Homo sapiens: one gene and its partner. The protein of the gene in region 2 purifies or fractionates together with the protein of the main gene of each other region. This does not show direct contact. Each region holds a gene or a part of one and is shown on either strand. Other genes may lie near its edges. The genes, in order: TLR4 and IRAK4.

Region 1 (3,829 bases), on a different chromosome or scaffold from region 2:
TATATGATTGTTATAGCCCATCATTCTATCTCTGCATTGCTCTATACATTAGGTGAGAAGGAAAGGGTCTTGCTGTGTCTCTATATCATTACATTGGTGATAATCACTTTAGAGAAGTAGAGTATTAAGACAAAGAAAACATTTAAGTTGGATTCTGGAGATGTGAACTTAAATCTCTGGTCTGTGGCTAACAAGCAATGATAATGTATATAAGTCATTTAAATTATTCAAGCTTCAGTTTCCTCACCTATAAAAAGAAATATATATATATTTCTATAGGGGAAAGAAGGCTGCCTGGTCTATCACAAAGCATTCTTACAAGACTAGTTGAGTTACTGTATGTGAACACTGTACGAAAAGGCAAAGGATGTCTATTGTGCTATCTTTTGTGCTTGCCCTAATTCAGAATCTCCTATGGGTTAACAAGAAGGGAAGCTGGCCTCTCTGTAAGCACAGATTTAAGGTTTCTGGGGCAAGTTTATTGGGTATCCAGTGGATTGAAGATGAATTACATAAGAGACATTGTTTGGTGAAAAACTACTTCTTGTTTGAAAAAAAAAAAAAGGGAGAGGTGGTCTACCTTAATAGAGTACTTGACAAAATTTTCATGCAGGAAACTGAAATTTAGAACATAATGGCATAGATGCAGCTAGTAGCCATTATCCTAAGCAAATTAACAAAGGAACAGAAAGCCAAATACCATGAGTTCTCACTTTATAAGTAGGATCCAAACATGGAGTACACATGGACATAAAGATGACAAAAATAGACCCTGGGGATTACTAGAGAGGGGATAGAGAGAAAGCAGCAAGGGTTGAAAAACTAACTATTGGGTACTATGCTCACTACCTGAGTGATGGTATCGATTGTACCCTACACCTCAGCATTACGCAATATAACCATGTAAATCCCTGAATCAAAAATAAAAGTTGAAATTATTTTAAAAACCTAATGAAATTCTGTAAGAATACTTTATGCTTATAAAATATATTTTATAAAAATTTAAATATATACAGCATATTAATATTTATTATCACATTTAATCCAGCAGAATAAGTTTCATCATTTCCATTGATCAGATATGAAAACTAAGATTAAGGGAGATGAAGTAATATGCCTAAGGTTACATGGTTATAAAGGTTGGGGGTAAACTTGGCTCAGGTCTTCTGACCCCAACAGGACTCTATGCACTATACCACTGCCTTTGAATTGTTCCATTACTCCTTTGTTACATCCTATCTATATCCAAATTAGAGTATAATAGGTCGTATGCTCACTCTTCTACAGAAATGTCTGCTCTAAAAAGGATTTTTATACTGTGACCTTAGTCTTTATCAATAATTTCTATAATAAAAAATATGTAAAATGTTTTGAAATGTTTTACAAACCATTGCAGAGAACATGATCCATTATCTAGTTCGATTTGCAAATAAGGCCCCGATGATGAAAACCCTTTTAGAATTTGGTTCCCCTAAAATATCAAGATGACATTTCACCTGCCACAACAAACGATATACTTCCCTGCATCAGAAAAGAAAATCTTAGCCATTATTCCCTGCCCACAGCAGATGTTTTCCTTTAATCTTGACATCTTTCTCCTTGGGTTACTTGTCTTTTCCTAATTCCCTATCCTGTACACTAGTTTTAATATTCTAGACATTGTTTGAATCTTATGCAGTTCATGAAATCTTTCTTGACTACCCACCACAGAGAAGGCCCCTCTTCTGAAAAATACAATTAGTTACCTTTAGTTTAAACATAATTTATCACCTACTGTTATATGTCGCTATCTTTATATCAGTTTCCAGATCCAAAAAATCATAATTAAAATGTGTTGACTATATACTATGTACCCAGGACCATACCCAGGACTTTAAGGTATTAACTCTTTCAAGAAGATATGCCTCCTTAACAACAGGGGCTGTGTGTTATATATCAATATATGCCTGTCTTCTTGCAGAGTGTACAACATATAGCAAGTAGTCAATAAATAGCTGCTTATGAAAGAATTTAAGCTAATTTTCTCTCCTGTCTTAAAAGAAAACCTAAAATTAGAATTGCCCTTAGAAGCTGTCTCAGCCAACTGCCTACTTCACAGATTAGAAAACTGAGACCTGGAGAATAGAGGTAGCTTGCTCAAGGTTATATAGTTAATAAGACATCTGTTGTATGAATGAATAAGTGAATGAAGATGAGACTCCACAAACCAAGCTTTCCAGTCCAATAATGAAATGACAGGACAATGAACACCTCACCTTGTGCAGTATGTAAAAGTGGATTCATTACCTGGATAAATCCAGCACCTGCAGTTCTGGGAAACTGAAGAAGCTATAGCTGCCTAAATGCCTCAGGGGATTAAAGCTCAGGTCCAGGTTCTTGGTTGAGAAGGGGAGGTTGTCGGGGATTTTGTAGAAATTCAGCTCCATGCATTGATAAGTAATATTAGGAACCACCTGCAATGATTACACATGACATGAAGTATCTTTACTGCATGGTCTCCCAACTCCCCTCTCCTAGACCAGAGATGGTGGAGAGGGGCCTCTTTTTGTGCAAGCACAAAATTCAGTCAACCTTTCATCCATCTGTCCATCCTTCCATCCATATATCCATCCATCCATTCACTCAATTCATGCTTATAAATTGTCTTACTCTAGATTAGAAAGTAAAGAGCACCTACTACGTGCTCAGCATTCTAACCTCCGTGATAAAACGGCAGCATTTAGCAAGAAGCAATGGAATCGGGGTGAAGGGCTGAGGCTCCGGAGTCTGAAAGCTCTGGGTTTCATGCCAGCTCTTCTGTGTGGTTTAGGGCCAAGTCTTTAAAAACAAAACAAAATAAAACGAACAAAAGAAAAACCTCAGTGAGCCTCATTTTATCATATGTAAAATGTAGGTAATAAAATATCCAATATCGTGCTTGCTGCAGTAGCACATACACTAAAATTGGAAGGATACAGAGAAGATGAGCATGGCCCCTGCACAAGGATGACACACAAATCCATGATGCGTTCCATATTTTCATGATCTATGCAGCAAATCACCATGGCACACATTTACTTATGTAATAAACCTGCATGCTCTGCACATGTGCCTCTGAACTTAAAAGTTGAAAATACAAAAAATAAATAAAATATCCAGTATCATTTTAAATACTCCATATCATTGGGGAGACTGTCTGGCAGTCAAGATGTCCAGACCTTCCTTAGTCATGGCCCAGATTTTGACAACTGCATTCTTTTTCTTGGCTCATTGACCCTTGAGCAAAGTGATGTAGAAATAGGGGGAAATCTTTAGAGTGCATGGATTCCCATGGTGGAACCTAGTAAATAAGGTCAAGTGCTTTATGCTGTCTTTGTTTTTACACTGCTTTCTAGCCTACTTTCCCACATTCTTTGTAAGCCTAATTCTCTAACGCTCCCATCTAATTTCTGAATGCTCTCATTTCCTCCAACAAAATTCCTTGCAGAAGCCAGCTAATTGTAGTTTTCTGTTGTTTGAAACCAATAGAATGTTTGAAGGATTAAATGAGATAAGGTGTTTAAAGAGTTTATTTAAAAGCCCGCTACAGTATAAGTGATCAATAGATGTCAACATTAATTATTATCATCTATCATTAATCCCTTACCATATGCCTGCATAGTTCTTGTTTGTTATATACTTTCACTTAATCTTCAAATAAGCATTTAAAGATGAGGAAAATGGAAATTCAAAGAAATGAAGTAATATGCGCAAAGTCAGAGTTCAAACATGCAGATCTTCATTCGTATGTCTGCTTAAATGTTGCAAGCCATGGAGCCTCAAAGACAATATTGTCTAATAGAAACAGTGC
Region 2 (3,829 bases):
TTAAAACAACAGCTACCCTCCCTCACAAATCTACAGTTGGCTGACCTCTCATGTCTCATGTATGTTTGTGATCAGCTGGCAGGTGGGCTGATTAAGGATGACCTCATCTGAGATGCCTTGTCTCTGTTTTGCATGGTCTGTCATCAGCAGCATGTTACCCTTGGCTTGTTCTCATGTCAGTGGCAGGGTTCCAAATGAGAGAAGTAGTGCATTAGTGCTTTTGAGACCTGGGCTTGGAACTGACCATCACTTTTTCTGTAAGCAAGTTACAAGGCCAGCCCAGATTTAATGGTTGAGGAAATAGACTTTACTTCCTGATGGGAAAAATTACAAAGCCATATTGCAAAAGGCATCAAATATAATGAGTGGAGAATTGCAGTCTAATACAATGAACAAGGGAAAGAAGTTATTTAATCATTGGGGGTCTCAAAATTTCCTCAAGAAGTAAAAGAATAGAACCTACATTGTAGATTTATCAAATCAGATCATGCTTCTAAAACTCAGCACAATGTTTGGCACAATAACTTTCAACATATGACAGAGAAAATGATTATGATTAATATGATGCACAGACATCGTGTTAGTGGTAAAGATCGCAAACTGATACCAGATGCTAATTTCTGCCACGCAACTTATTAGCTATATAATCTTGGGTAATTTCCTCATCTGTAAAATGTGATTATTACCAAATTCATAGGATTGTTATAAAAATTAAAGCACTTCAAACAGTATTCATAAGTGTTTAATAAAAACAATCTATAACTTAAAAATTACAAATTTATATAGTTAGCCCGTTTTGCATCACTATAAAGGAATAACTGAGGCTGGGTAATTTATAAAGAAAAAAGGTTTGTTTTGGCTTACGGTTCTGCAGGCCATACTAGCACGGCACCAATATTTGCCTGGCCTTTGATGAAGGCCCCAGGAAGGTTACAATCACAATGGAAGGCAAAGGGGGAGCAGACTCTTTTAAGCCACCAGATCTCACACGAACTGAGTGAGAACTCACTCATCACCAGTGGCTCTAAGCCATTCATGAGGGATCATCCACCATGACCCAAACACTTCCCATCAGGCCCCACCTCCACCCCCAACACTGGGGATTACATTTAAACATGAAATTTGAAGGAGACAAACATCTAAACAATGTCATTCTACCCCCAGCCCCCCAAATCTAATGTCTTTCTCACATTGCAAAATATAATCATCCCTTCCCAAAGTCTTAACTCATTCTAGCATCACTCAAAAGTCCTAAGTCTCATTTGAGACTCAAGGTAAGTTCCTGCCGCCTATGAGCCTCTGAAATAAAATATAAGTTATTTATTTCCAAGATACAGTTGGTGGTACAGGCAATAAGTAAAACATTCTTGTCCCAAAAGGGAGAAATTGGCTAAAGAAAGGGGCAACAGGATCCTGGCAAGTCTGAAACCCAGCTGGGAAGACATTAAACTTTAAATACTGGCACTTTGGGAGGCCGAGGCGGGTGATCACGAGGTCAGGAGATCAAGACCATCCTGGCTAACACAGTGAAACCCCATCTCTACTAAAAATACAAAAAAAATTAGCTGGGCATGGTGGCGGGCACCTGTAGTCCCAGCTACTGGGGAGGCTGAGGCAGGGGAATGGCGTGAACCTGGGAGGCAGAGCTTGCAGTGAGCCGAGATCGTGCCACTGCACTCCAGCCTGGGCAACAGAGCAAGACTCCGTCTCAAAAAAAAAAAAAAAAAAGCCCTAACATATTCCTTGATTCCATGTCCCACATCCTGGCACACTGGTGCAAGGGGTGGGCCCTCGAGGCCGTGGGCAGCTCCACTCCTGTGGCTTTGCAGGGTGCGTGGCTTCCCTCATGGTTGAAGTTGAGTGCCTGTGGCTTTTCCAAGCTCAGAGTGCAAGCTGCTGGTGGCTCTACAATTCTCAAGTCTGGAGGGTGGCAGCACCCTTCCCATAGCTCTACTAGGCAGTGTCCTGCTGGGGTCTCTGTGTTGGGGCTCCAACCCCACATTTCAGTACGTACACTATAAGCCTCCCGCTGTACATGCTCTGTATAATTTCCACATACCCCTCAAATGTGGGCAAAACCTGTAAATATCATGGGAAATCATCATGGGAAAAACATCATGGGAGAGTATCTGTATTTGTTTTCTATTACTGAATAATAAATTACCACAAACTTAAAGGCTTAATGTGACCCATTTATTTATTTATTTATTTATGATGGAGTCTCACTCTGTCACCCAGGCTGGAGTGCAGTGGCACGATCTCAGCTCACTGCAACCTCTACCTCCCTGGTTCCAGCTAGTCTCCTGCCTCAGCCTCCCAAGTAGCTGGGACTACAGGTGTCCACCACCACGCTCGTCTAATTTTTGTATTTTTAGTAGAGACGGGGTTTCACCATGTTGGCCAGGCCGGTCTTGAACTCTTGACCTCAGGTGATCTGCCTGCCTCGGCCTCCCAAAGTGCTGGGATTTACAGGTATGAGCCACCACATCCAGCCAATGTGACCCATTATCTCACAGTTCTATATATTAGAAGTCCAGCACAGAACAGATAGATTCTCATACTGAGGATCATGCAAAGCTGAAATCCAGGTGTCAGCCCAGGCTGTGGTTATCATCTGAAGCTTGGAGTACTCTTCTAAGCTGACTCAGATTTTTGGCAGAATTCAGTTCCTTGTGGTTGCAACTGAGGTCCCAATTTTTTTTTCCTGCTTGCTGACAACTGGAAGGTAGGTCTCATCTCCTAGAGGCCACCTTTAGGTTTTAGCCAATGTGGCCCTCTCACATACTTCTTCAAGGCTTACAAGGAGAATTCTTCTTGCAAGGGTTCACTTGATTAGGTCAGGCCCTTTCAACAGTCTCAAAGTGAGTTGTTTAGGAACCTTAACTGCATCTGCCAAATTCCTTCAACTTTGTCATGTAACATAATCTAATAATGGACATATCATTATGGCAGTATCATCAAGGGATATTTTATTTGTGGTTAAATGATTGCTGTGAACACAATCTATAAATATATGACTAATAGGATTTTGTAACTGGCTCTATAAACTTTAAATTTTGTATCATTTTACAATTTACAAAGTGCTTGTATATATTTTGCATCATTTGATTTTCATGACTACCTGTCAGAGAAGCACAGCAGATATTAGCCCAATGTTATTAGTGGCTCACAGCAGCTAAGTGTATGTCCAAAGCTTTACAGCAAATTAGTAGTGGAGTCAGCTGGGCTTCAGATCAGAGTGTTTCCACCCTACATACAGCCCAGGCTCTTTTTGCTAACCCTGTAATTTTCAAACTGTGTTTGGTGATGCTTGAAGGAGATTTCTCAGGGATTACTGTAAGAACTGGGGGTGATACTAATGGGTAGGGCTAAGTGTTGATATGGTGGCTCTATTTTTATATTTTGGAAGTTCAACCCATGCTTTAATAACCACTGTCCTGCAACAGCCTATGCCTTGTTAAAGGTAAAGAAGAATATTTAGGAAAAAAATCAGTTAAAAAAATGGTTGAGATAGGTGTATATAAAAAGTCAAGAGTCTTTTCCAATAAAGTTTTAAGAAGCTGTCATCTCTTGCAGCAGCTGTTGAACCTTTTAAAAAGAAAGAAAAAAACAAAAGAACCACATTATACAGTTGCTTTAAAATATACACTCTGGAAAATATGATGAACCCCACCCCTTTCACTTTTTAAATAAGTATAAAAAATGCATACCTTCTTAATGTCTGGTCTCTTATTTTTCTTTTCATGCAGACATTGACTAGCAACAGAGTACATAGCTTCAACTGAAGTGGAATCAGCATCATTCATCTTTTTATCAATATAATCTTCAA

The links.
Region 1: the proteins of IRAK4 (region 2) and TLR4 purify together in Homo sapiens (affinity purification with western blotting; 2 studies listed by BioGRID and IntAct, with this or other methods). This does not show direct contact.

What each region holds. Positions count from the first base shown.
Region 1 is NC_000009.12:117,707,187-117,711,015, reverse strand, and holds part of TLR4 (toll-like receptor 4 isoform A precursor), read right to left. Parts: intron 2,818-3,829; exon of another isoform or gene 2,698-2,817; intron 2,454-2,697; coding exon 2,287-2,453; intron 1-2,286.
Region 2 is NC_000012.12:43,786,439-43,790,267, reverse strand, and holds the end of IRAK4 (interleukin-1 receptor-associated kinase 4), read right to left. Parts: coding exon 3,711-3,829; intron 3,589-3,710; coding exon 3,553-3,588; 3' UTR 727-3,552; downstream 1-726.